Homo sapiens: one gene and its partners. The protein of the gene in region 1 purifies or fractionates together with the protein of each later gene. This does not show direct contact. Each region holds a gene or a part of one and is shown in the gene's direction. Other genes may lie near its edges. The genes, in order: FBL, SNU13, RRP9 and C1QBP.

Region 1 (7,050 bases):
TTATACCTTAATAAAGTTTTAAAAATTAATACATGTGTGTTTGTTTGTGTGGGCTGTCTTAAAATACCATAGACTGAATGGTTCCAATAACAGAGATTTATTTCTTACAGCTCTGGAGGCTGGAAAGTCCAAGATCAAGGTGCTGATTGATGTGATTCTCTGTGAGGGCCCTCTTCCTGGGTTGCATCTCTCCCTCTCTCCCTCTTAAAAAGTCACTAATCCTGGCCGGGCACGGTGGCTCACACCTGTAATCCCAGCACTTTGGGAGGCCAAGGTGGGTGGATCACCTGAGGTCAGGAGTTCGAGACCAGCCTGACCAACATGGAGAAACCCCGTCTCTACTAAAAATACAAAATTAGCCGGGCGTGGTGGCTCATGCCTGTAATGCCAGCTACTCTGGAGGCTGAGGCAGGAGAATCGCTTGAACCTGGGAGGTGGAGGTTGCCGTGAGACGAGATCATGTCATTGCACTCCAGCCTGGGCAATAAGAGCAAAACTCTGTCTCAAAAATAATAATAATAATAATAAAGTCACTAATCCCATAATGAGGGTTTACACTCATGACCTCCTCCAACCCTAATCCCTCCCAATGCTGTCACTTCCAAATACCATAACAATGGGGGTGAGAACTTCAACAAGTGAATGTGTGGGGAGACAATTCAGCCCATGGCCATGTGTTATCTATACCATCAACAGGGTGGGAAAAAATGGAGAATGAATAGACTGGGGGCAAGTGATAGGATTGCTGGTCAGCATTAAGCATTTGGGTTTGTAGTCATGAATCAAAACCGAGACCAGCCAGGGTGATTCTGTATTTTTCTCCATCCACATTCAGCTGCCAGGGGTGCAGGTGCAGAATAAATGGAGGGTTGAATTCAGTTCATAGTTTGGAGGTATGCAAAGGTGTGGTAATAATGATGGTGGGGAATCTGGCTAGGTAGTTGAGAGTGGTGTGGCCATGATTGGGGGAGGGATAGCAACAAGTCAGACAGCTTAATGGATGGTTAGGGCTGAAGGCTCACTGGTGCAATCTTTAGAAGGAGTGAGCTGGAGAGACAGGAGGTGACGGGCAGAGCGTGAGATGCATGGAGCTGAGATTCTGTAGGGGCTGTGGTTATGCGGCTGTTGCCATCTAGAATGGGTCCTTCTCCCCCACCAGGCTGGGACCTCTGGGGCTGTCACAGTTATGTGTTGTTGTGTGTTCCCAGCACAAGGTCTAGGTGTGATCATGGGAAAGAAGGGTTGGGTGGAGGACAAGTGCAGTGGGGGAGAGGAGGTCAAGGCACCAAGAGGCCAGAGTGGTAAAAGGATCATTTACCTGAATTTGAAAATCACCAAGAATAATGACAGGAGTGGTGTGGGTGACAGTGAGCCTGAAGCTAAATGACGAGGTGAGCAGAGGTGACTTGGGAGTCAATGGGTCTAGCAGCACAAAGGGGAGCAGGTGCTACAGTGTGACTGTGTAAGCTTCAGACCTAGGGTTCAGGGAGGAGGCAGAGACAATGGTTTAGAAGTGCCAGTGAGGAGCAAGGACGCTCTTCTCCCATCTACAGATCCAGTGGACATGAAGGCCGAGAAGGAGAAAACAGCCCCGCTTGGAAAGGGAGGTCTTCAGGGCAGAGTCCTCCTTAGAGCAAGAAGGTCACAGGAAGGTTCAGAGGGAGTTGAGGAAATGGGGAATATTGGGAAAAGTCCTCAAGGGCTTCGCTATCCCTGCCCTGCCCTGCCTGCCAGTGTCTCCTCCATCCCCCTCCCACCTCTCTGCCTGGGCCTCCCCTATCCTGGCCCTGAGCCCCCTGCCTGGGGCTCCCCAGTCCCATTTCTGCCGGTGCTTCCCCCATTGCCCTCCTACCCCTCTGCCTGTCCCAGCCCTGACCCCTCTGGGCCAACACTGTTTGGGAACCTGTCTGTCTCTCCTATTGGACTGGCAGCTCCAGGAGGACAGGACCCGGGGCTGTTTTAGCCACCATTGTGTCCCCAGCACAAGACCAACAGGCACCTCCACCACTAATTACTTACCGATAGAGCCAATTTCAGGTCTTCAGAGCAAGCTAGCAGGCAAAGTATCTCAGAAGCAGGAGATGGTGCCAGGATTCCAAGAAATAGGGCTGGAATCCCCTAAATCTGCACTGCACTCTGAGTACTTTTGTCCTTTAGAAGAAAAATATTAATTAGAAGGCAAATAGTAAAATCCATGTGAAATAGGTAACATTATCCGGAATTGGACCCACTGGAATCATTGCACATCTAGAAATCCAGAATAGACTCAACTATTTCATCTCATAGTTTTTAAAAAGTTTTTTTTGTTTGGTTTTTGTTTTTGTTTTGGGACAGGGGTGTCGCTCTGTGACCCAGGCTGGAGTGTAGTGGTGCAGTCATGGCTCATTTCAGCCTAGACCTACTGGGCTCAAAGGATCCTCCTGCCTCAGCCTCTTGAGTAGCTGGGACTACAGGTGCAAGCAACCATACCCAGCTAATTTTTTATTTTTTGTAAAGATAAGGTCTCACTCTGTAGCCCAGGCTGGCCTTAAGCTCCTGGGCTCAAGCGATCCTCCTGCCTCGGCCTCCCAAAGTGCCTGGATTACAGGTGTGAGCCACTGCCCCGACCGGTTCTGAAAAGTTTAAGCAGATTTTCCATCATAATATCTAAACAATCTTTCAGGAATGTTTCTGTGCAAATTGGTGGCATTCCACAGCTGGAACACTGTACACAGAGAACTCACAACGGTATGAGGCCATCCATTCATTCAACAAACATTTACTGGGCACCCAGAGGGCTGTCCTAGGCCTAGAGTGATAGAGCAGTGAATGGAACAGAGTCAACATCTAGGCTCTGGACTGGTAGGTTCTTCTGGAGTTTTTCGGTAACTTCTCATAACAGCAGTTGTCTTGCTTTGCAGAATGAATATAGGGATGGATACTGATATTACACAATTACAAAGCCCAAAATTCTTAATACTTAAGCAGAATCTGTTGACCCCTGACGCCGCTCTCTGCCCCCACTCTGATCTGTCCATCCTTTTCTTCTGATTCACGGCAGCAGCCAGTCCTTGGTTTTCCTGCTTTCACCCTCACTCCTGCAGTCTGCTTCCCACATGCAGCCAGAGGGACCTGTGTCAGATCACATTCCTTCTCTGCTTGGAACCCTTCCATGGTTCCATCTTACTGCCTAAGTCCTCACTATGTCCCACAAAGCTCCGCACAATCTGCCCTTGTTAGCTACCCGCCCTTATCTCCTCTTACTCTCCACCTTGCTCACTTTGCCCCACCCACCCTCCTCATTGTCTCTCCAACTTCCCATATCTTTCCTTCCTCAGGGCCTCTGCATCTGCAGATCTTTTCCCTGCCTGGAACTCTCTTCCCCTAGATAGGTGCATGCCTCACTCCTCACTTCCTTCAGCCCTTTAGCTCAAAAGTCTCCTGATGCATTCCTTGACCACCGTGCCAAAAAAACAAAAATCATTTGCCCTCCAAAATCTCTATCCCCTTTCCCTGCTGTTATTTTCTCCAAAGCACTTATCGCTTTCAAACATTCAACATGTTTGGTGTCTATTTCCTCCATTAAAAAGATGAACTCCAGGAGAGTGGAGATTTTTATGTCTCGTACACCGCTGTATTCCCAGCTCCTAGAACAGCACCTGGTACACACGAGGTGCACTGTAAATGTTTTTCGGATGTTTGAATGGAAGCCCAGAGTCGGTCACTGTTCTTGGGGCTGGAAATGTATTGGGGAAGCCTTTTTGGGTGTACAGGGGCCAGAGGGATTTAGCTAGGAATACAAAAGAGGGCACAGCCCGTGCGAAGGCTATGAGCCCTGATTATTGGGGTGCTCGCATTGGGGAAGAGGAAACCGGAAGCGAGTTTAGGGCGACCGCTGCACAGGCAAAGGCTGGGAAGGCAGAGAGCGAGGGCAGCGGGTTGCGTGTCGACAGGCTCGAGAATCCAGGCTCACTGCGCGTGCGCCGAGCTCCGGGCGGGGAAGGGGCCCGGGGGCGGGACTACGGGGTGGCGTCACGCAGCGCACGTCGCCGCGCGCCTGCGCTCTTTTCCACGTGCGAAAGCCCCGGACTCGTGGAGTTGTGAACGCCGCGGACTCCGGAGCCGCACAAACCAGGGCTCGCCATGAAGCCAGGTCAGGCTGGGGTGAGGGTCCGGGGTCAGGGACGGAGGCCGGGCGGGAATCCGGGTGCCAGGCCAGAATCGGAGGGGTGGGGCCTTGGCCTGGGGGCAGGGGTTCTGAGCACGGGTTCCAGTCTCCTGTGGGAAGGGGGATTCTGATTCCAGCAGGTCTAGGGGTTTGTGACTGGCTTCAGAGGTCACGGTCGTGAGTCGAAGAAGGCCGTGGGCCTGGCATTGGGGGTGTTGACGTGGGGTTCGTCTCATTGAGGCCGTCTAATAGGGATTTTGGATATTGGGCAGGAGGCGGCACTCAAGGGTCTTGGGCTAGAGTTTGGATTCAGGCATCTGGAGTCTTGGATCGCTGGGCGTGTTTTGGGAATCAGGCTTGGGTCGGAGATGGAGAGTTCCTGACCTTGGGTCCTGGAGCTGTGTGTGGGAAGCCCCCATTTGCCTTCCCTGTCGCTGCCACCACCACCATCCCCTTATCCCGCATCCCAGCTTTTCCGAGTGGGCCGGAGTGGATGAGGACTCCCCGGTTGGCCGTGTGCGGCGCTCTTCGGCTCACTTTCCCGCCTTCTGCACTTACAGTGGGGCGGATCCCCGGGGATGGAGTGGAGATTTGGGGATTAAGATTTCCACCTCCGGGACGAGACTTAACAAGCTCGGCATTAGTCTGGGGTGGTGGGGCGGGTGGTTGTCACAGGAGGTAAGTAGTTTTATTCTTAAGATTTTCCACTAGATTCTGCTGAAACCACTCCCTTCATGGTGGAATGATGAGGGGGTCCTGGCTTTGACAGCAGAAGGGCCTCAGTTCAGTGTGTCAGCTCTTGCTCAGCTTCTTAGCCTGCTGTGTGAACTTGGGCAAGTGGCTTTACCTCTCTGAGCCTCTGTTTTCTCATCAATAAAATGGCGCCAGTTAGGATTAAGCGACGTTAAAAAAAATAGCACAGTGCTTGACATATAATAGTATTAGCTCTAATTGTTACCTTTATCTTTCTCAAAGAGAACAACATTAGAATCCTTCTCGGTGGTGCCTGAGCACTTCCTCCATCTGGCCTGCCCAACCCGCACTCATCTGTGTGAGAACTTGCTTCATTGAGTTTGGAGAATTTCCACCATGGCCCAAAGGGTCTGTTTTCCTAGTACAGGCTTTCTTTTTCTTTTGTGTGTGTGTTTGTGTGGAGAGATGGGGGTCACCTGGCAGGAGATTTGTGGATCTGTGCCCTTCTCCCAAGTTCCCTTTCTCTTCCGTGTTTGGGGATCTCTTGATGAAGTGGGGTGGGGGATTGTAGGCCAGGTATGCTGAGATCCTGGCTTGCCTGCAGGCATTCTGGTCTGTGATTCCCTCATAAATGGAGGATACCCGTTCTTCCAACCTTCCTCCATGTGTGGTAGAATGTGAAGTTGTAAAAGTTGTCAGGTGTTAGCTCTTTAGTAAGGATTTTAGCCTGAGTGAGAAAAGAACCCTTTGGGAGATTTTTGAGCAGGGGCGTGGTGCAGTCTGACATTTTTAAAAGGGATTCTTTTTGCTTCGATGTGTGAAAGACCTCAGGGTGGCAAAAGTGGAAGCAGGCACATTGGTGGGAAGCTTGTTGCTGTAATCTAGGAGATGGTGTGGTGGACCAGGATGGGAGCAGTGGACATGCTGACAGTTTTACATGCTTTTGAAGACAGAACCAACAGATTGTATGTGGGTGTGTGATCGGAGTCAAGGATAACCAAGGGTTTGGGGGTGTGTAACTGGAAGGATGGAATTGCCATTTTTGAGATGGAGAAGGCTGTGGAAGGAGAGCAGATTTTAAATCAGGGGGTTTATGGACCCCCCTCCCCCCAAAAAAAGAACTTACTGGAAAAGTTTGTGTGAACATGTGTTTTTTCTGAGGACTGGGTACTTTTGGTACATTTTCCCCCAAAAGCTCCAGGACCTGAAACGGATTGAGATGTTTTGAGTATCTGGGATTGAAAGTTTACACTCATGCCCACTCCGCCCCAAGCACATGCCAGTACTTCCTTTCTGTTAGGCCTGGGTTGAGACTTTCATAAGCCTAGCTGTGGCATCTCCCCTAAATGAAGGTCTTGGCTTTGGAAAACTGTTGGAGGGCTTGGGCAAGAAAATTGAGATCTGAGTTGCTGTTTCAAAAACAGCACTTATTAGTTGCTGTGTGGAAAGTGGACTGTAGGGGGAGTAGAACATTAAAAAGTGAACAACTCTTAGTTATGTTCTAGAGTTTTGAAAAGGAAACTTCATTTTAAAAGATCAAATTAGGAGTAGCTATTAAAAGTTACATTTTCATCTTTAATAGAAAGATGAAAAAAGAACTAACTGGAAAAGTTTGTGTGAACATGTGTTTTTTCTGAGGAATGGGTACTTTTGGTACATGAGGAGGGAAGAGGAGACGCGTACCCCTGAGTTTGAATGATGATGTTCAAAGTAGGTGCCAGATAGTATATATGTGATGTGCTCTGTGGGTACAAGTCATTTAATCTTTACAACCCTATAGGATGAGCACTGCATTTTTTTTATTTTTATTTTTTTGATACAGAATCTCTCTCTGTCACCCAGGCTGGAGTGCAGTGGCACCATCTCAGCTCACTGCAACCTCCGCCTGTGTTCAATTGATGCTTGTGCCTCAGCCTTTTGAGTAGCTGGGATTACAGGCATGCGCCACCACGCCCAGCTAATTTTTTGTATTTTTAGTAGAGACAGGGTTTCACTATGTTGGCCAGGCTGGTCTTGAACTCCTGGCCTCAAACTGTCCGCCTGCCTGGGTCTCCCAAAGTGCTGGGATTACAGGCATGAGCTATGGCGCGTGGCCTGGCACTGTATTGTCTCCATGTCTTACAGATGAAGTTTTCAAGACCCCTATGAACCTTCCTTACTAGGGTCGAGAGTGGCAGCAACATTGCCTATCTCTCCATATGCGATACTTG
Region 2 (7,026 bases), on another chromosome or scaffold:
TTCAGCCTCCCGAGTAGCTGGGATTACAAGCATGTGCCACCATGCCCGGCTATTTTTTGTATTTTTTTAGTAGAGACGGGGTTTTGCCGTGTTGGTCAGGCTGGTCTCCAACTCCTGACCTCAAGTGATCTGCCTGCCTCAGCCTCCCAAAGAGGTGGGATTACAGGCGTGAGCCACCACACCCAGCCTAAACAATTTTTTTTTTAATTAGCCAGGAGTTGGCCGGGTGCAGTGGCTCATGCCTGTAAACCCAGCGCTTTGGGAGGCTGAGGTGGGCGGATCACAAGGTCAGGAGTTCAAGACCAGCCTGGCCAACATGGTGAAACCCCGTCTTTACTAATAATACAAAAATTAGCCGGGCATGGTGGCGCATGCCTGTAATCCCAGCTACTCAGGACGCTGAGGCAGGAGAATTGCTTGAACCTCGGAGGCAGAAGTTGCGGTGAGCCGAGATTGTGCCACTGCACTCCAGCCTGGGCAACAAGAGCAAAACTCCGTCTCAAAAAATAAAAAATAAAATAAAATAAAATTAGCCAGGAGTGGTGGCCCACACTTGTAGTTCCAGTTACTGAGGAGGCTGAGGCAGGAGGATCGCTTGAGCCCTGGAGGTCGAGGCTGCAGTGAGCTATTGTCATGCCACTGCACTCTGGTCTCAGTGATAGAGTGAGACCCTGTCTCAACAACAAAAAGGGTGTAATTCTTTTTTTTTTTTTTTTTGAGATGGAGTTTCACTCTTTCGCCCAGGCTGGAGTGAAGTGGCATCATCTCAACCTACTGCAATCTCCGCTTCCCGGGTTCAAGCCATTCTCCTGCCTCAACCTCCAAGTAGCTGGGATTACAGGTGCCTGCCACCACACCCAGATAATTTTTGTATTCTTAGTAGAGACGGGGGTTTCACCATGTCATCCAGGCTGGTCTTGAACTCCTGACCTCAAGAGAGCCACCCACCTTGGCCTCCCAAAGTGCTGGGATTATAGGTGTGAGCCACTGTGCCTGGACTGCCCCAGCTAAGTTTTTAAATATTTTTAGAGATGGGGGTCTCACTGTGTGGCCCAGGCTGGTCTCAAACTTCAGGCCTCAATCAGTCCCCAGCCTCAGTTTCCCAAGTTGGTGGGATTATAGGCCTGAGCCACTGCAGCCAGTTCAGAATACACTCTTCAAACATGGAACGTTTTTGAAAATTGGCCATAAAGCAAGCCCTGCAAATTTTAACATTGGTAATATTACATACCATTTTTGCCTAACCCAAAAGGAAATAAGTTAAAAATTAGTAACAAAGTAGTTTGAAATGAAAAATATAAACTATCAGAGAGATTTAAAAATTGTAGTAGGAATTCAAAAATAGAACAGAACAATAATGAAAATACCACATACCAGAGCATAAGTGACAAGGGCAGAGGGGGGAAGAAACAAATGAAAGGATATAATGAAAGTATTACTTGGAGCCTAAGATGCTAATGCTAGGGAGAAACGGGATAAAAAGGTAGAAAAAAACACTAGCACAAAATAACCCCAAAGAAAGTAGAAGGAAAGAAAAAAAACAAAAGGAGAAATTGCTGAAATAGAAAGTAGAGCATACTGCTGGGTCTTTTCCTTTCCGAAGCCCCTCTTTCTCACCAGAGAGAGCTGTTCTTTCTCTTTCTTTTGCCTATTAAACCTCTGCTCCCGGCCAGGCGCAGTGGCTCACACCTGTAATCCCAGCACTTTGGGAGGTCGAGGCAGGTAGATCACCTGAGGTCAGGAGTTCGAGACCAGCCTGGCCAACATGGCAAAACCCAGTCTCTACTAAAAAATACAAAAATTAGCCCGGTGTGGTGACGCGCACCTGTAATCCCAGCTACTGGTGGGGGCTGAGGTAGGAGAATTGCTTGAACCCAGGAGGCAGAGGTTGCAGTAAGCCAAGATCGCACTACTACACTCCAGCCTGGGCAACAGAGCAAAACTCCATCTCAAAAAAAACAACAAAAAAAAACCCTGCTCCTAAACTCCTGTGTGTCCATGTCCTAAATTTTCTTGGCATGAGACAACAAACCCTGGATATTTACCCCAGGCAACGAAGCTAGTTCAGTTTGACACTGTTGTCAAAGTTTTGGGGAATTAGTCACTGTCATGCATTGCTGGTGGGTGTGCAAGTTGTTAAACCCTATATAGGGTCAATTTAGAATAGATATAAAAGTTACAAATGCATATTATATCTTTTGACTCGTTAATCCCACTTCTAGGAGTTTATCTTACAGATATACTGAATGAAACATAATATAGATTAGGTATAGATGAGATTAGACATTATAGCATTTACATAATAGTGAAAGATTAAAAAATATATAAATGGGCTGGGCACAGTGGCTCACACCTGTAATCCCAGTACTTTGGGATGCCCAGGCAGGAAGATTGCTTGAGGCCAGGAGTTCACGACCAGCCTGGACAACATAATAAGACAGTGCCTCTAAAATTAAAAAATTAGCCAGACGTGGTGGTGCATGCATGTAGTCCCAGCTACTTGGGAGTCTGAGGCAGGAGGACCACTTGAGCCCAGGAAAGTCCCCCTCAGAAAGATTAATCGAAAAAATAAGGCCAGGCACGGTGGCTCACGCCTGTAATCCCAACACTTTGGGAGGCTAAGGCAAGCGGATCACTTGAGGTCAGCAATTGGGAGACCAGACTGGCCAACATGGTGAAAGACCTTCTCTACTAAAAATACAGAAAAATTAGCCGGGCGTGGTTGTGCATGCCTGTAGTACCAGCTGCTCTGGAGGCTGAGGCTGGAGAATCGCTTGAACCCCGGAGGAGGTTGCAGTGAGCCAAGATGCCACCACTACACTCCAGCCTGGGTGACAGAGCGAGACCCTGTCTCAAAAAAGAAAATGTTTAAGTAGGTAACATGTGAAGGAGACATACTCTATAGACATTAAAAAGAAAGGATGGCCAGGTGCGGTGGCTCATGCCTGTAATCCCAGCACTTTGGGAGGCTGAGGCAGGCAGATGACCTGAGATCAGGAGTTCGAGACCAGCCTGGCCAAAGTGGTGAAACCCCGTCTCTACTAAAAATACAAAAATCAGCCGGCCGTGATGGCGGTCACCTGTAATCCTAGGTACTCAGGAGGCTGAGGCTGCAGTGAGCCGAGATCGCGCCACTGCACTCCAACCTAGGCGACAGAGGGAGACTCCGTCTCTAAATAAATAAATGTATGAGGAAGAGAAAAATAATATGGAGGTCTTCCCTTGACCTCCCCCAACCCCCTTCCTTTAGAGAACTCCTCCATCCTTCACCTAATTCTTCCTAGTTGTCCTGGGACCAAGACAAATTCGCCTAAGATAAGGAGTTACGTAGAAGACAGGGCGTCCTGGTGTACGGGCTGGCCCTGGACGTCACTTCCGCTGGCGGCAGTGGCGTCACTTCCTGCTCTTGGGGGCGGGGCATCCGTGTCCTTGCGGTGCTGGGCAGCAGACCGTCCAAACCGACACGCGTGGTATCCTCGCGGTGTCCGGCAAGAGACTACCAAGACAGACGCTATGGTGAGTGTTCCTACTGGGCCATTATCTCCGGGTCACCTCCCGAGAGCTGTGGTGCCGCGAGCGTGGTCCCGCTGTGTCAGAAAAGCTGTAAAAAAACGGAAGGAGGAAAAGGCAGGTGCGCGGTGTCGGGCAGGAGACCACCGAGGCAGGCGCTATAGATGAGTGGTCCCACCAGGCCATCTCCGTCTCCAGCGACTGCCGTCCACCCTATGTCCAGCCTCCAAGGCCGAGGTTAGGTGGTAGCCGCAGTGAATCACTCGCGATTCGCACGTTACACACGATGGCGACATGTGGGGCCGCACCTGGGTTATAATATGAATATATCCTTGTATATAAATATGTGTTTGTAAAAACAAAAAAAAAAAGAGAAAAATTAATGAAAATGATTTACTGGAGCAGTGGGAATGAGATGGAAGGAGCGGAATAGGCAGGCCACTCACCCAATATGCTCCCTACATGGGTGTGTATTTATTTATTTATTGAGACGGAGTCTCGCTCTGTCGCCCACGCTGGAGTGCAGTGGCGCCATCTCCGCTCATTGCATCCTCCGCCTCCTGGGTTCAAGCTATTCTGCGTCAGCCTCTCGAGTAGCTAGGACTACAGGCGTGAGACACCGCGCTCGTCCCCTACATGGGTTATTTTGACACAGATCTGAATGACATCATTTTATCCATAAGTATTACAGTATATATCTATAAAGTAAGAATTTTTAACATAACTGCAAATGCCATTAATTAGTTAATAAGGGTTGCAAGTTGGTGATATTTAACTGTACCATTCCCTCTTTATTTATTAGGCGGAAGAGTGATACAAGAGGTACTTCTCATCTTCTACCTGGTTACCGCCTAATACAGCATTTAGGAAAGGCACAGAAGATGATTGTTTCCCTTTCCCAGTTTTCAAAATATTGAGTTGCTATCACTTGCATAGTTTTGACTTTTAAACCATGAAGATATTTTACATATTTGAAAAATAAAATTTAAAGCAAGCTGACTACAAAATAAATCTACTTGTATACCAAATTGCTAACCACAAGGAAAATTTTAATTTGAATAACTTTTGAACAAAGTCCTGCCACTGGATGGCTTTGATAGGATATATCCTAAGAACAAAAATAAATTTTGACTTTGGTGAGTTTGTTGGTAGAGGTGGTATATTGGTGTAGCAATTTTGGAACCATTTTGTGTGTATTGTAGAGGAGGTGAGGAAATACTTTAATGTGTTGGAAACCATGGGTTTGAACAGAAGATACGCATATGGAGTGGGGAATGGAAAGAAAACTTTGTGCTACATTTACTGTAAATTATATCTTATTGATTCAGTAAATTCAGGTGGAATACGGAAGTTCAAATTTAAAGATTACCCATGGACTCCTGACCTCAGGTGATCCACCCGCCTCGGCCGCCCAAAGTGCTGTGATTACAGGCGTGAGCCAGGAGTTTGAGACCAGCCTGGCCAACACGGTGAAACCCTGTCTCCACAAAAAATACAAAATTAGCCTGGCATGGTGGTGCACGCTTATAGTCCCAGCTACTTGGGAGGCTGAGGCACAAGAATCATTTGAACTCGGGAGGCAGAGATTGCAGTAAGCTGAAATCGCACCACTGCACTCCAGCGTGGGCAACAGAGCAAGACTCCATCTAAAAAATAAAAACAGAAATGGATTAGCCATGGACTCAAATGGATGCGGAGCCATGGGAACCCGTTTGTAATCCATTTGCTGTAATATTATCAAACATTCGGCTGAAGAAAGACAAAAGTACATGAGCTTTAGTATACTTTACTGAACTGTGTAATTCCTAATAGTGTATTTCCTTTTTTTCGAAGGTAGGAGTGGAAAGTCCATTGTTAACTACCTGGTGTTTTGTGTGTTTGAGGGTTAGGGAGCAGGGCAGCTGCCCCCTGTGTCTCAATTGTTGATTAGTATTTTGTGACTCAGGTAGGAAAACTTCTGGCTCAATTTGTCTGATATTTTTATGTCCCCCCCATAGACTGAGGCTGATGTGAATCCAAAGGCCTATCCCCTTGCCGATGCCCACCTCACCAAGAAGCTACTGGACCTCGTTCAGCAGTCATGTAACTATAAGCAGCTTCGGAAAGGAGCCAATGAGGGTAAGGCAGCCACAGGATGCTCTGGGGGAATGTTAAAGGCACCTGTTTCCATCTGGGGCCTCTGATCTGATTTCCAGTTTGGGAGGAGGGCTAGCTGCTCTCGACTACAACCAGTGGGAGGACTTTGGCATTAGATGCTAAAGCTGATGGGCTAAGAATTTTTTTTAGACCCACCAATTGTTAACATTTTGCCACATTTACCTTCTTTTTCACTCTATAAGTGAATTTTATTTTTGCTGAGCCATTTGAAAGCAGTTGTGGAGACTGTATAGTGGCTGTATGACCTCACCAGAGCCATCAGAAGGAAAGGGATATTAATGCTTTTTAGCATCCCTTATACGGTGGATACTTAACATTCATGAATTTCATTTGGTTCCCAGAAACATTCCCTACCCCTCTCCCTTTTTTTTTTGGATGCAATTATTCAAAAACATGGAACGTTTCACGAATTTGCATGTCATCCTTGTGCAGGGGTCATGCTAATCTTCTCTGTATTGTTCCAATTTTAGTATATGTACTGCTGAAGCGAGCACTACCTCCCTTTGTAAAAAAGGAAAAAAAAAAAGCTGTTTTTCAGTAGAATAATTATGTATGCATGATGCTTCTGCCCAGAGGTGATATAGGATACTCTCACTTTATTCATTATTATTTTTTTAATTTTATTTTATTTATTTATTTATTTTTTTATTTGGAGAGTTTTGCTCTTGTTGCCCAAGCTGGAGTGCCATGGCAGGATCTCAGCTTACTGCAACCTCCGCTTCCCGGGTTCAAATGATTCTCCTGCCTCAACCTCCCAAGTAGCTGGGATTACAGGCATGCACCACCACGTCCAGCTAATTTTGTATTTTTAGTAAAGATGGGGTTTCACTATGTTGGTCAGTCTGGTCTCGAACTCCTGATCTCAGGTGATCTACCTGCCTTGGCCTCCCAAAGTGCTGCTGGGATTACAGGCGTGAGACACTGTGCCCAGCCTTATTTTTATTTTTATTTTTTTTCAAGTAGAGACGAGGTTTCACCATGTTGGCCAGGCTGGTCTCGAACTCCTGACCTGAAGTGATCCGCCTGCCTTGGCCTCCCAAAATTCTGGGATTACAGGCGTGAGCCACTGTGCCCGGCTGCCCAGCCTTATTTTTATTTTATTTTATTTTTTTGGAGACAGAATCTCGCTCTGTCGCCCAGGCTGGTCTTAAACTCCTGAGCTCAGGCAATCTGCCTGCCTTGGCCTCCCAAAGTGTTAGGATAACAGCAGGCGTGAGCTACCATGCCCAGCCAGAATACTCTCATTTTAATAGATGCTGGGTAGTTTGATGTGGTAGAGCTCTTTTGTCGTTGAAGATTTTTAATGGAAACATCAGAGATTTTGTCAACTGTGTTTGAGATTTAGGAGAACTATTACAA
Region 3 (6,002 bases), on another chromosome or scaffold:
TTGTTCCCAGGGTAAAGGATGGTGCTGTGGTGATGACAGTCCTGGTGTGTCTGCCTGGTGGGTCCTTGGATCTGATCCAGACTGCCCCCGTCATGTCTGGGGATAGTGTCACCCTTTCTGCTCTCTTGTGTCGCATCTCTGGTTTCCGGTATCCCTTGCCTTTCTCTTTCCCAGTTTACCCTCTTGTTTGGGAGCACAGCTTCTATCCTTCCTAAAGAAAAAGAGGGAGAAAATTCCATGGCACCTTGCACACCTGGCAGTGTCGTCGTTGATTGTTTGACTGGGCATGGCATTTTAGGGGTCAGTGTATTCCTCCAGAGCTTTGTGTGTGAGGCTTCTTTGTCTTCTTGTTCTCAGTATTGCTGTTGAGATGCCTGCACATTTTGATTCCTGACTCTTTGTATGTGACCTGATTTCTTTTGGAAGCCTGGTTTCTCTTGGAAGCCTCCTCTTTCCCCCAGAGTTGAGAGGCTTTAGTGATCTCTTTGGGATTTGGGTCTGTTTCCACCCCTACGTGGGGCACTGAGTGGGGCCTTTTAGTTTGGGGAGTCACATCCTTCAGTTTTCTGCAGTGTAGTCACCGACCATGTGGGCTAGCAGGGAATAGGGGAGGTTGGATGGCAAGGTGAGCATCCAGAAGGCACGATCCTAGCGGTCAGAGGAACAAGGTGAGCCCCTCAGACCCAGCCCCTTCCTGCCCACAGCCTAGCTCCAAGGAAGCCTGAGGAGGAGGAGGAGGAGGAGCTGGAGGAAACTGCACAGGAAAAGAAGCTGCGCTTGGCCAAGCTCTACCTAGAGCAGCTCCGTCAGCAAGGTGAGCCAGTGGGCAGGCCAGCCATGGGCAGGGCTTCTGCCTGTGCTGGTCTGCTGCCCGCCGCTGCAGCCCCAGCCACTTGATGGGTGACTGACATGGATTCCCAGTGGGTGCCCAGGCTGTCAGTGCTGGCTGCCCTGTGGGGGTGGCCAGAAGCTCTCATGGGCCTCCTGGGGAGCCCGCAGGGGGCTGATCTGATAAGTAAAGGCAGGAGGAAACCCTCCAGCTTGCCCTCCCCTCTGCTGAGGCAGCTGGAGCTTCCTGCATTATCCAGCCCTGGGGCAGTGGGATGGGGACAGGATGGAAGGGAAAGAGGGGTCTCAGCCTCAGTTTACTTGGTCTGGTCTGTCCTGCACAGAGGAGGAGAAGGCTGAGGCCCGTGCATTTGAGGAGGACCAGGTGGCGGGGCGCCTGAAGGAGGATGTGGTAAGTGTGGAGGGAGAGTTGGGGGAGGACGGGGGTGGAGCTGATCTGCTCCCAGGGTCTCATCCATCTCTTCTCCATGCAGCTTGAGCAGAGGGGCAGGCTGCAGAAGTTGGTGGCAAAAGAGGTGAGTGGGCATGGTATTTTGGTATAAGGTTGGAGGGAATTGGGGGCCCCACTTGGAACATGGTGGACACTTGGGCCTATCTGGTCAGGTAAGGATCTGGTTGTTGTAGCCTTGGGTCTTGTTTTCCTTCTGGCCTGGGTGGGAAAGGCCAACACTACGCAGTGGGGTTGGTGAAGGTAGTGCCTTTATGCCACTAGCCACAGTGACCTGGCCCCTGTCTGCCCAGATCCAGGCCCCAGCCTCAGCTGACATTCGCGTTTTACGGGGGCACCAGCTCTCTATCACATGTTTGGTCGTCACCCCCGATGACTCAGCCATCTTCTCTGCTGCCAAAGACTGCAGCATCATTAAGTGTGAGTGAGTGCCTGGGTGGGGCTGGAGCCCCCATGGCGGATCCGGGAGGGCTGGTCAGGGGAGTGGGAGTGGTCATGGCAGGCTGAGCCCTGAAGTGGGGAAGTCTCTGGAGGCAGGTTTGCTGCCCTAGGAGTGCTCTCTGGGTGACAGTGAAAGCTGCTGCCCGGCAGTGGGGCTTATGAGCTCCCTGTCCCTAGAGACCTTTGGGCAAAGTCAGGATGATGATTTAATGGGAATTAATGCTGCAGGTAGGTGGTTGGACTAGAAGACATTTGAGGCTGTGCAGTCCTGGGATTGAGTGCCCGGTCCTCCTGGGTTCCCATCCGTTGCTGGCTGACCAGCGGTTCCTTCTACACCCGCTGTAGTAACAGAAGAACTCACACCATCAATCCCAAAGCCCTTTTACATCCCTTCTCTTTTTTGGGCTTTGTGGCTGCTGTTTGGCACTAATGTCCCTCTTCATAGATGAGGAAACTGAGGCAGCTTGTCCGGAGGCTCACGGTGGCTGAGCCAGGTCTTCTGGCCGAGTCCGGGACATTTGCCATGGCTCTTTTTTCCATGCTGCCCCTTGAGGGGGGTTGCCAGCCAGCCCTATCCCCCCATCCCAGTAGCTTCTCCCCCACCCCCAACTGCAGGGAGCGTGGAGAGTGGACGGAAGCTGCATGTGATTCCTCGAGCCAAGAAGGGTGCCGAGGGAAAGCCCCCTGGCCACAGCAGCCACGTCCTCTGCATGGCCATCTCCTCCGACGGCAAGTACCTTGTAAGGCCAGGTTGGCCCTGGGGGCAGGCGGGAGGTCTGGTGCATGGTGGGTGCCTGTGATCATTGTCTTCATCCCTGCAGGCCTCTGGTGACCGCAGCAAGCTCATTCTCATTTGGGAGGCCCAGAGCTGCCAGCACTTGTACACCTTCACAGGACACCGGGATGCAGTGTCGGTGAGGAGCTGGGTCTATGTCAGTGGATCTTTAGTGGGCACATGCTAGTGTTCTAGGCTCAGTGCTGGCCTCTGGAGTCTCTGTCCTCAGGGAACCTGCATCCTGGGGTAGCGAGTGGGTAGCGAGTGGTGCTGTAAAATACATAAATGGGCTAAAGGGATGGGGAGGAGCTGGGGGAGACCGGGCCGAGCTTGCTCAGGAATCAACGAGGGCCTTGAGAAGCCGCCTCTGGGCGGGATGTAGCGGCTCTTGCCTATAATCCTAGCACTTTGGGAGGCCGAGATGGAGGATCATCTGAGCCCAGGAGATGGAGGCTGCAGTGAGCTATGATCGCACCACTGCACTCCAGCCTGAGCAACAGAATGAGACCCTGTCGCTAAAAAAAATAAATAAATAAAAAAGACGTCTGCATCTGCTCAGGGGCAGATGGGCATGTGGGCAGTACAAAATTGCCTCACAGCACGTGCCACATGGCTTGCTTTTTGGGAAGTCCTCCCTGGGCCTGACCTGTCTCTCGCCTGCTGTAGTCCAGGTCCCCTTTGCCCTCTCCCCATGCACCCTTAGGGTCTGGCATTCCGCAGAGGCACCCACCAGCTCTACAGCACATCCCACGATCGCTCCGTGAAGGTGTGGAATGTGGCAGAGAACTCCTACGTGGAGACGCTGTGAGTGTGGATGGGAGAGGGTGTGTGGATGGTGTGAGAGAGGGTGTGGGAGTGTGTGCCCGTGAGTTCATGCAGTACCCCTATCCCCACTATCCTGCTCTGCCCGGCCCTCTAGCTTCGGACACCAGGACGCTGTGGCTGCACTGGATGCCTTGAGCCGGGAGTGCTGTGTGACGGCTGGGGGCCGGGATGGGACTGTACGTGTGTGGAAGATCCCCGAGGAGTCCCAGCTTGTCTTCTATGGCCACCAGTAAGGTGGCCTGCCATGCCAGTGGGGGCTACATGGGCTGGGGGTGGGCTTGGGCCACGCTCCTCACAGCCCCTTTCTCCAGGGGCTCCATCGACTGCATCCACCTAATCAATGAGGAGCACATGGTGTCCGGCGCGGACGATGGGTAAGAGGTCCTTTGGATGTCTCTGGCCACGGCTTCTGCTCCTGAGTGCTGGCTGTCCACGGGGCCCTGAGCTTGCCTCAGGGCACCCCCAGTGGGGGAGCTGTTGTAACCTCTTTTCATGGATGAGGATGATGAGGCAGAGAGCTCAGATGGCCTTGTCCGGGCTGTGTGCCCTTGATCCCTTCCTGTCATGTGGCCTTTTTTCTTTTTTTTTAGAATTAAAAAAAATTTGTTGTGGGTGCTTAGTAGGTGTACGTATTTGTGGGGTACTTGAGATGTTTTGATACAGGCATGCAATATGTAATAATCACATCATGGGAAATGGGGTATCCATCCCCTCAAGCATTAATCCTTTGTGTTACACAGGGGGCCTTTTCTGCCTCTGGCCCCCTCACTGCTGTATTCCCTCCCTGTTTATAGCTCTGTGGCCTTGTGGGGTCTCTCCAAGAAGCGACCACTTGCCCTGCAGCGTGAAGCTCACGGGCTGCGGGGAGAGCCAGGCCTGGAGCAGCCCTTCTGGATATCGTCGGTGGCAGCCCTCCTCAACACAGACCTTGTGGCCACAGGTGGGTGCCCTGAGAGGCAGGGAGGAGGGGTCGCCGGGTGGGCCGGTGCAGGGGTTGCTCACTGTTCCAGTCTCCCCAGGCTCCCACAGCTCCTGTGTGCGGCTTTGGCAGTGTGGGGAAGGCTTCCGGCAGCTTGACCTTCTCTGTGACATCCCCCTGGTGAGTGAGTGTGCTTGAATGCTCAGCCTGTCTCTGCCACACTGCCTAGGCCCCTGGAGTTAGCTCTTTAAGGTCTTTCTTCCTGCCAGAAGGGAACCTTCTCAGGGCAGGGCCAGCTCCTAGCACAGGGCCTGGCAGGAACCCTCCCCACTTTCCCTCCTCTGCTCCCCTTCCTATCCTAGGCCCTGTCCAGGGTGCTGGGGTACAAGTCAGGGAGCAGCATGGGGAGAGGCATGGAGGCCTGGCCCTGTGATGAATTCTGTACTGCTGGTGCCAGATTGGGTGCCAGGCTAGAGGGTGTGGACCTCACTGTCCACACTAGGGTGACCTGGGGGAGGGTGGCAGGATCTGTCAGTGATGTGTGCTGAGAATGCAGGGTCTAGGTCAGTGGGGACAGTCATGGGGTCTCCAGGGCCCCACCACCAGGAGCCAGCCTCAGGCCATACTGGGTGTACACTGCCTCCTTCATCCTCACAAACTCACTGCTAGCCCCGTGCTCTGCTTACCCCCATCTCGCAGATGTGGAGGCTGAGGCCCTGACAAGTGAAGGGCTGGCCTGTGTCACCAGGTGGCAGGAGGCAGAGCAGGGATTTAACCCAGGCCTGATAAGGCCCAGCCCTTGACTGTGATGCTGAGGACGGTGGTGGCGGGGGGCGTTCTAATGTCTTTCCGTGTTGTCTTTCTGCTCAGGTGGGTTTTATCAACAGCCTCAAGTTCTCCAGCTCTGGGGACTTCCTGGTGGCTGGGGTAGGGCAGGAGCACAGGTATGTGTGGCCCTCGAGGGTTCAGGTAAGGTGGTGCAGGCTGGACAGCTCGGTGGAAATGGGGTGGAGACTGGGCCGAGTCTCAGCTGCGTCTTGCACTCCCTGCAGGCTTGGCCGATGGTGGAGAATCAAAGAGGCTCGGAATTCTGTCTGCATCATCCCACTCCGCAGGGTCCCTGTACCCCCAGCTGCTGGTTCCTGACACTCTTATCCTCCTTATTTAAGTCCTTCCCAGGCTATGCCCCACCCTCTTTGTATTAAAAGCCTCCTCTTTTGGGCCTTGTTTCTTGTAGCTTCTTGGTGGGGGTGGGGGTGCATGAGGGACTGGGTGGGAGGCGGCCTGGGGAGGGACAGGACTCCAGCAGTCTCCTAGCTCTGCCCCTCTGCTAGCCTGAGGGCTGTTATCCTTTTCCAAAGAACTTGGGATGGAGACCTCAACTGGCTCCTGGCTCCTGTCCCTGCGTGTCCTGCACGACCTCCTCAGGCTAGCTGCCTGCCACTGCTCTGGGTGGTCGGGGTCAGAAGCTACTCACCCCTCAGCTCAGAAGCCAGGGCTTGTAAGGGCTGGTGCTGGGGTCAGGACTGGACTGTAGACAGCGGACCTGCACATCAAACTGGCTTCGCTTCCTCTCCCAGGTCAGGTCAGGAAGCTGGAGGGGACAGACTGCCGTGAGGTGTGGGGGTCAGGAGTGGGAGTGGGACCCTGCACTGGTGGGCTTACTGTTTGGAGACAGGGGTCCAAGTTGGGAAGAGCTCTGTCTTTGGTCTGAATGTCAGAACCAGGACCTACCTGCCAGGACC
Region 4 (7,372 bases), on another chromosome or scaffold:
GTAAAGGAGCCTCCTGGTCCTCAGTGCGTGACCCTGTCAGTGCTTTCAGGAGACATGTAAGCTTCCTGGGTGAAGGTTGATTTGTACCTTCTGAATCCTGTCACGTGTAGACATGGGAAACTGACCTATCAGTGTTTTGTGTGTGTAGGTGACTCCCACATACACAGTTGCCATTTTTCTCTCTAACTGGGCACCAGTGAACATGCGGGCATGAGGAGTGACTGTGTACCATTTCAGCTGTTTCTTTTCGGGCAGTCCCCTGGTCAGAGGGGGTGGGGGTGGGGGAGGGGAGAGGGGTACCTAGAACCCAGAGAACATTGGCTTATGCCAGATACCACACCACATCTGGGCTTACATTCTTGTATCTTTTTTGGTGTGTGGGCGGGGGGGGTGGGGGGCAGTTCAGTGAAGTCTAGAAGACCTGCTGGACAAATTCTAAAAGAGCTAGAGCTGTAACACTTATTCTTGCATCTTATTAATTTTCTATGATATTTTTTCCTTCTTCGTAGGGACTTGGGACAATCTGGCTTTGCTGCTTTCTAACTGCTAGGCACCTCTCTCTAACCCTCATTGTCAGAGGGAATTGGAGGATATCCACAGTCTGTTCCTGTTCTGATATTCTGAGCAGAGAAAAGGCACTAACGGTTCCTCTTAGCTATTTAATTATCAGAAGCAAGTAATCTTTCCCCAGATAATATTTTGCCCTAGAAGAAGCCGTGATTTAGCTCTTTTATTGTGCTTACTTGGTCCAAATACATCTGTGGGGTGTTTTGTCATTTCTTAATGAATGAATCATAGTTATAACCAGGGGCCAAGCTGCCCAAGAGGCTCTTCAGAGATCATGGATGCTCTCTTTCTGGAAGCTGTGGCCTGATGGAGCAGCCCCATTCCAGGGTCCCATCTGTCCGGAGTTGTGTATGTCAAGTCCGGCTCAGTCTTTATTTCCAACACTAGCCGTGGTCCTGTGCAGTCAAGCTCTCAGCTAGTGTTTAGGGCTGTCTGTCAGAAATGGTTATACGTGGGCAAAAGAAGATCTGACAGCTCCTATATACCTTATCTTACTGAATTCTTAAACTTTGAACCAGTTCTTCCACTTACTGACTTGTTACCACTGCTGACTTTCTGAAAAGTTTTCCAGTTTTTGTTTTTTGTTTTTTGTTTTCCAGTAGGGGATTAGAATGTTTAGTCCTACTTAGTAAGAAAAATATTGTATTTTTAATCATTCATAGTGCTGGTAAAAAAAAAAAAAAAAAAAAAAAAATTGGGGGGTGGCCGGGCGCAGTGGCTCACACCTGTAATCCCAGCACTTTGGGAGGCCAAGGCGGGCGGATCACCTCATGCCTGTAATCCCAGCATTGGGATGGGAGGCTGAGGTGGGTGGATTGCTTGAGAAGTTCAAGACCAGCCTGGCCAACATGGCAAAACCCCGTCTCTACTAAAAATAGAAAACTTAGCTGGGCATGGTGGCACACGCCTGTAATCCCAGCTACCGGGGAGGCTGAGGCACAAGAATTGCTTGAACTTGGGAGGCAGAGTTTGTAGTGAGCCAAGATCACGCCACTGCATTCCAGCCTGGCCGACAGTGTGAGACGGTCTCAGAAAAAAAAAGAAAGAAAGAAAGAAAAAGAAAAAACTTGGGGTAATTTATGTCCAGCTTAAGTACCTGAACAGTTTCCGGAAATGTATATTTTTTTTCTGAGAGGCAAAGGATGTAAACAGCTTCTAAGTAGCTTTAATGTTTCTGTACAGAAATAAGTTTATCCCTGTAACATTGTGGTAGAGTTTTAATACAGTATTTAGTTTTTTATTGGGCTTTTTTAAAAAGTTAACTTTTAACATAGCTGCTCAGGGATTAAATCAGATTGGAAAACCCATTCTGACTCCACATACTGCTACAAAGAAATACATCGTTGTTTATATTGAGCTGCAGGAGATAGTACACTTTAAACTTAAGAAAGTTAAATGTTTCACAATAACATTGCAATATAATCTTCAGCTACTCTCTTTCCATTGGTAAAATCTCTGATGGTGTGATAACTCTTTGCCAACCTACGAAACCCATATCTGGAAGAATCACCAGCTCCCGTGAGCAGCTTCATGTAAATAGATGCACTCCAAGCAGATTGCATGCCTCAGGTGTTTGTCTTCTAGTAATCATGGAGTGTGCAACACCCAGAGTAACACTACAAGGGGCAGGACTGCAAACAGCAGGTCCTGGCTAAAAACCCTTAATGCTGCATTGCTGCCAGTTGTAAAGAGATGCCTGAATGGAGGCAAGTTCTGCCCTGTGGGTGAAACTGATGATGTACTGTACTGTCATATATAAATCCACTAAATCCAGCTACCAGGAACTGCCTGGAACTGTGGCCATGCATTTTTTTTTTTCTTTAAAGACCAGTGTGATAGTAGGCCATGCATCTGAGATACGATATTCCTTGGTAACTAGAGGGAGAAAAAAAAATCAAGTAGGTTCAGGCTTATGTTGTATTTTGAGAGTCTGGTTTTATTTGAACAGAAATAACTCTACAGAAAGCTCTTGTAAATAATGCTCAAATTTGCACCCGACGATCAAATCCATTAAAAATGAATCTTGTATATGATGTGTGTGGCTTGTTTCTTGCATCTCTTTTCCATTATTCATAGAAAATTATTTAGAAAATATTAAGTGTTAGTCTTACCATGAGTTAGTAAGACATACCTTCTTAGTAGCTTATATGTCCTGTATATCCTGGGAAGGTAGGATTGTTGATTTTTAATAAATCTGAACCCTGTCTTTGGGTTATATTAATTTACTGGAGAAACTCACAGAACTCAGGGAAACACATTTACCGGTTTCATACAAAAGATATGACCAAGGATACAGATAAGGAGATGAGCAGGGTGGGGAATGGGGAAGAAGCTCCCAGCCTCCATGCCGTCCCTGGACCACCACCCTCCAGGAACCTCCATGTATTTAGCTATCAGAGGCTCTCCAAACCCTGTCCTCGGGTTTTTATGGAAGCCTCTGGACTTATCTAAATGATATAAGCTGGCTTCTTGTCCCCAGAAAAATGATGTTCCATTAGAACTTGGATGCAAGGTTGGAGGTGCAGAGAGGGAAGGTCACAAAAATTAATCATGGATCCTGCCCTTGAGGATGTCACAGTCTGGTTGGGTTTAACCTGGTTAAAGCAGCAACGCTAGGAGGTTCCTGTTGAAAAGAGAATGAAGCATATGGGCTGGGTGCGCACAAGCATGAGTTCCGAGCCGGTGGAAAAAAAGGTTCTAGAAGGCCTCTTTCAGGAAAACCCTCAGACTTTCCTTTGCTCTCACAACACAACAATCAACACAGAAGACTTATGTGGCCAAAGGTTTGGGTTTTTCCCCTCCACACTAAGCAGCAGACACCAGCTGGGTGTCCTCCAATTCAATCCCAACAGTATCTACCTGGAGATAGTGTCAGATCCCATAGGTTGAGGGCTCAGTCCCCAAGACCGCCCCCACCTTCAGACAGCAATGGCAAGTCTGGGCCTCTGAAACTTCCGACCAACCCGCTTCAAGTTGGGGTTCCCACGACCCCCCTCTTTGGATTATGTTAACTCACTGGAGCAGTTCACAGAACTCAGGGAAACACATTCACCGGTTTCATATAAAGGATATGACCAAGGATACAGATGAGATGAGCAGGGTGGGGAATGGGGAAGAAGCTCCGAGGTTCCTTGCCTACCCTGGGCCACCACCCTCCAGGAACCTCTACGTATTCAGCTGTCAGAGGCTCTGCAAACCCTCTCCTCTTGGGTTTTTATGGAAGCTTCTGGACATCAGCATCCCTTCCCCCAGGGTATATGGTGGGACCTTCTCTGGGAAGGGACTTAAGACCCATAATCAGAAATGTGGAAGGAGATTAGAGTCCTGCTTTGGGGCAGGTAAAAGGAGGGCAGGAGAAGGGGAGAGTCTGTTTCCTGAGGCCTAACACACCCAACATTATCACAGAACATTGTAACAAGGGCTATAGGAGTTACGACCCAGGAACTGTGGATGAAAACCAATACATATATATATCATAACACCACAGCCTCCTAGAGGAAAGTGACCGTGGAAGGGTCTGGTGAGAGCTGGCGGGAGACAAGAGTGCATTCCACGCAGCCCAAAAGCCTTGCGTGCTTTGAGAACAGCAGGTGGAAAGTGGGTAAGCGGCCACTAGAGGGAATTAAACAGCTTCGGACAGCGGACTCGGCAGCGCAGCAAGAAAGCTCCGGAATCCGGATTCGAGGCTTCCCGGGCTGCACCGGAGTCTCCAGCAGAGGGCGCGATTCCGCCCGCTGGCCTTAGGTCGTCAGAGCGCCGGCGCGGGAAGCGCTTCCGGGCAGGGGCGGGGCTTCCGGCGGCGCCTCAGGTCGCGGGGCGCCTAGGCCTGGGTTGTCCTTTGCATCTGCACGTGTTCGCAGTCGTTTCCGCGATGCTGCCTCTGCTGCGCTGCGTGCCCCGTGTGCTGGGCTCCTCCGTCGCCGGCCTCCGCGCTGCCGCGCCCGCCTCGCCTTTCCGGCAGCTCCTGCAGCCGGCACCCCGGCTGTGCACCCGGCCCTTCGGGCTGCTCAGCGTGCGCGCAGGTTCCGAGCGGCGGCCGGGCCTCCTGCGGCCTCGCGGACCCTGCGCCTGTGGCTGTGGCTGCGGCTCGCTGCACACCGACGGTGAGGTTTAGCGGGCCGGGGGTGTGGTTTGCGTTCAACAGAGGGAAAACGTAGACCAGGAATAGGGCCTGCAACCGACCTCTGAGGTCTGGGACATTTTTCCATTGATTGGCAACCAGCGGGCTAAACCCACGTATGATCATATTTCCCCCACCTCCCCTATCCAGCAGTTTCGTTTTCTTTTGGTAGGGGGTGAATAAAATTAAATACTAGGGTACCTTTTTCCTTAGTCTTATTCTATCGAAAGTGGACCTTTGGGAAGGCCCATGGTCGTGGTTGAAAATAGCATAGTTATATCGTTTGGCAAGTGGAAGAGGATTGGAAATTCTCCTGGTTTATAGCGGAAAGTGGTAATGCGTTCATTGTTGGAAATCACTTTTCCAGAATCAGGCTCAGCTTCCTACTACTATTATGGTATTTTTACCGATAAGGAAACAGGCTTCTAGAGTAACCGTAATAGCAGAGAGATTAGAAACAGTCCAGGTTTCTGGCTGCAATAACCTGGGTAATAGTTTTATGTTTTAGACTAACTGGCTTTCCTTTTTATGTATCTGGATTTCTTTTCTAGGAGACAAAGCTTTTGTTGATTTCCTGAGTGATGAAATTAAGGAGGAAAGAAAAATTCAGAAGCATAAAACCCTCCCTAAGATGTCTGGAGGTTGGGAGCTGGAACTGAATGGGACAGAAGCGAAATTAGTGCGGAAAGTTGCCGGGGAAAAGTAAGTACTGGTCTGGGGATCCCAGGGCAGCAACTCCCTTAACCTTGCAGGACCCATCCTGGGTCATCCCCAGAAGAGCCTTGAGTTCAGGTGTGGATACTTTGATAAATGGGTTTCAAGAGAGTGAAGGATTCATTTGGACAACTTCGTAAGCCCCAGGCAGTCCATTCACCGAACACAAATTTGCTGTGGGCTGGTTACTAAGGAGACAAAAATGTAGTGCAAAAAAGTACTGGCAGAATCAGTTTGATCTCTGATTTACAGCCCTGATAAAATAGGACACTGCTCTCTAATGTTTAGTATGGGTGAAAATGAAAAATATGTAACTTCTATGTAACAGGATGGGGTTACACTGTAGTAAGGGCTGCCATCAGAGGTGGGGAGTTTGTGACCTAAGTCAGCTCCCCCATCATCTCCTAAACTGTTAAAGTGTTTACACTTTTCTGCATTATAGTCATCCATAATCTCATTACACAGATAAACATTTGGCATCTTCCAGGTTTTTAAATTGAGCCTGGGCGCGGTGGCTCACACCCATAATCCCAGCACTTTGGGACGGGCAGATCATGAGGTCAGGAGAAAATCCTGGCTAACACTAAAACCCTGGCTCTAGTAAAAATTAACCGGGTATGGTGGCACGTGCCTGTAGTCCCAGCTACTCGGGAGGCTGAGGCAGGGGAATCGCTTGAACCTGGGAGGTGGAGGTTGCAGTGAGTCGAGATCGCGCCACCGCGCTCCAGCCTGGGCAACAGAGCAAGACGCCATCTCAATAATAAATAAATAAATTGAATTTCCTTCATAATTGACCTTATGATGTGTATGTAATTTTTTTAAATCACAGCTTTTATGAGATTTAATTGAGATGGCATACGATTTACCCATTTATTGAAGTTTATTAAATTAAGTGGTTCTTAGTCCTCGCAGAATTATGCATCAGTTATCACTACCTAATTCTAGAACACTGTTGTCATCCCCAAACAATACCTATTAGCAGTCACTCATTATTCCTCCCTGTAGCCACCCCAGGTAATCACTAAGCTACTTTCTCTATGGGATTGCCTCTTTTGGACATTTCATATAAATGGAGTCATACAATTTGTAGCTTCCCCCCCCAACCCCACGGAGTCTTGCTCTGTCACCCAGGATGGAGTGCAGTGGTGCGATCTTGGCTCACTGCAACCTCTGCCTCCCAGGTTCTGACAATTCTCCTGCCTCAGCCTCCTTAGCTGGGATTACAGGCGTGCGTCCGGTTAATTTTTGTATTTTTAGTAGAGACAGGGTTTCACCGTGTTGGCCAGGCTGGTCTCAAAGTCCTGACCTCGTGATCCGCCCGCCTTGGCCTCCCAAAGTGCTGGGATTTCAGGTGTGAGCCACCCTGCCCACCCTATTTACCTTTTTAATTGTTGGGTTGTAAAAGTTAAGTTTTTCTGGGTACAACTATCTTATCAAATTAATGATTTGTAAGTACTGTTTCCCATCTTGTGGGTTTCCTTTTCACTTTCTTGGTAATGTCCTCTGACACAAAAGTTTTTAATTTTGAGGAAGTTCAGTTTACCTATTTTTTTGGTCGCTTGTGCTTTTTTATTTATTTTTTACTTTGCTTCTAATTCACCAAGTGCAACTTGTGCTTTTTTAGTGTCACGTCTAAGAAACCACTGCCTAACCCAAGGTTGTGAAGATGTATGCCTTAATTTTTTCAAAGTTTTCTAGTTTTAGCTCTTAGTTTAGGTCTGTGATTCATTTTGAATATGGTGTGAAGTAGGGTCCTGATTCTCTTGCCTGTTGCATAGTGTGTTTTTGCCCTACACAGGTCAATTGTGTCTTCTGTAATCTCACCTAAACACCATTTGCGCAAGGTTTTCATAGCTATTTGGGGGCCATTAAAAATAATGCTCTGATGAACGTCATTCAATTTCTGTGCCCAGGAGCTCAGCTTAGTCAGCACAGTTGGAATTAGACAGATTTTGTCAACCTCAGACTGCC

What was found.
Region 2: the proteins of FBL (region 1) and SNU13 purify together in Homo sapiens (affinity purification with mass spectrometry; 5 studies listed by BioGRID and IntAct, with this or other methods). This does not show direct contact.
Region 3: the proteins of FBL (region 1) and RRP9 purify together in Homo sapiens (affinity purification with mass spectrometry; 5 studies listed by BioGRID and IntAct, with this or other methods). This does not show direct contact.
Region 4: the proteins of FBL (region 1) and C1QBP purify together in Homo sapiens (affinity purification with mass spectrometry; 6 studies listed by BioGRID and IntAct, with this or other methods). This does not show direct contact.

Annotation. Positions count from the first base shown.
Region 1 is NC_000019.10:39,843,373-39,850,422, reverse strand, and holds the start of FBL (rRNA 2'-O-methyltransferase fibrillarin), read left to right. Parts: upstream 1-4,043; 5' UTR 4,044-4,122; coding exon 4,123-4,132; intron 4,133-7,050.
Region 2 is NC_000022.11:41,678,846-41,685,871, reverse strand, and holds part of SNU13 (NHP2-like protein 1), read left to right. Parts: intron 1-3,284; exon of another isoform or gene 3,285-3,513; coding exon of another isoform or gene 3,514-3,516; intron 3,517-5,507; coding exon 5,508-5,628; intron 5,629-7,026.
Region 3 is NC_000003.12:51,932,907-51,938,908, reverse strand, and holds the end of RRP9 (U3 small nucleolar RNA-interacting protein 2), read left to right. Parts: intron 1-704; coding exon 705-814; intron 815-1,172; coding exon 1,173-1,240; intron 1,241-1,322; coding exon 1,323-1,364; intron 1,365-1,590; coding exon 1,591-1,717; intron 1,718-2,353; coding exon 2,354-2,478; intron 2,479-2,559; coding exon 2,560-2,652; intron 2,653-3,216; coding exon 3,217-3,317; intron 3,318-3,432; coding exon 3,433-3,567; intron 3,568-3,649; coding exon 3,650-3,712; intron 3,713-4,132; coding exon 4,133-4,278; intron 4,279-4,357; coding exon 4,358-4,437; intron 4,438-5,127; coding exon 5,128-5,201; intron 5,202-5,309; coding exon 5,310-5,403; 3' UTR 5,404-5,480; downstream 5,481-6,002. UniProt on the Homo sapiens protein: Component of a nucleolar small nuclear ribonucleoprotein particle (snoRNP) thought to participate in the processing and modification of pre-ribosomal RNA (pre-rRNA).
Region 4 is NC_000017.11:5,436,140-5,443,511, reverse strand, and holds the start of C1QBP (complement component 1 Q subcomponent-binding protein, mitochondrial precursor), read left to right. Parts: upstream 1-4,356; 5' UTR 4,357-4,438; coding exon 4,439-4,670; intron 4,671-5,238; coding exon 5,239-5,389; intron 5,390-7,372.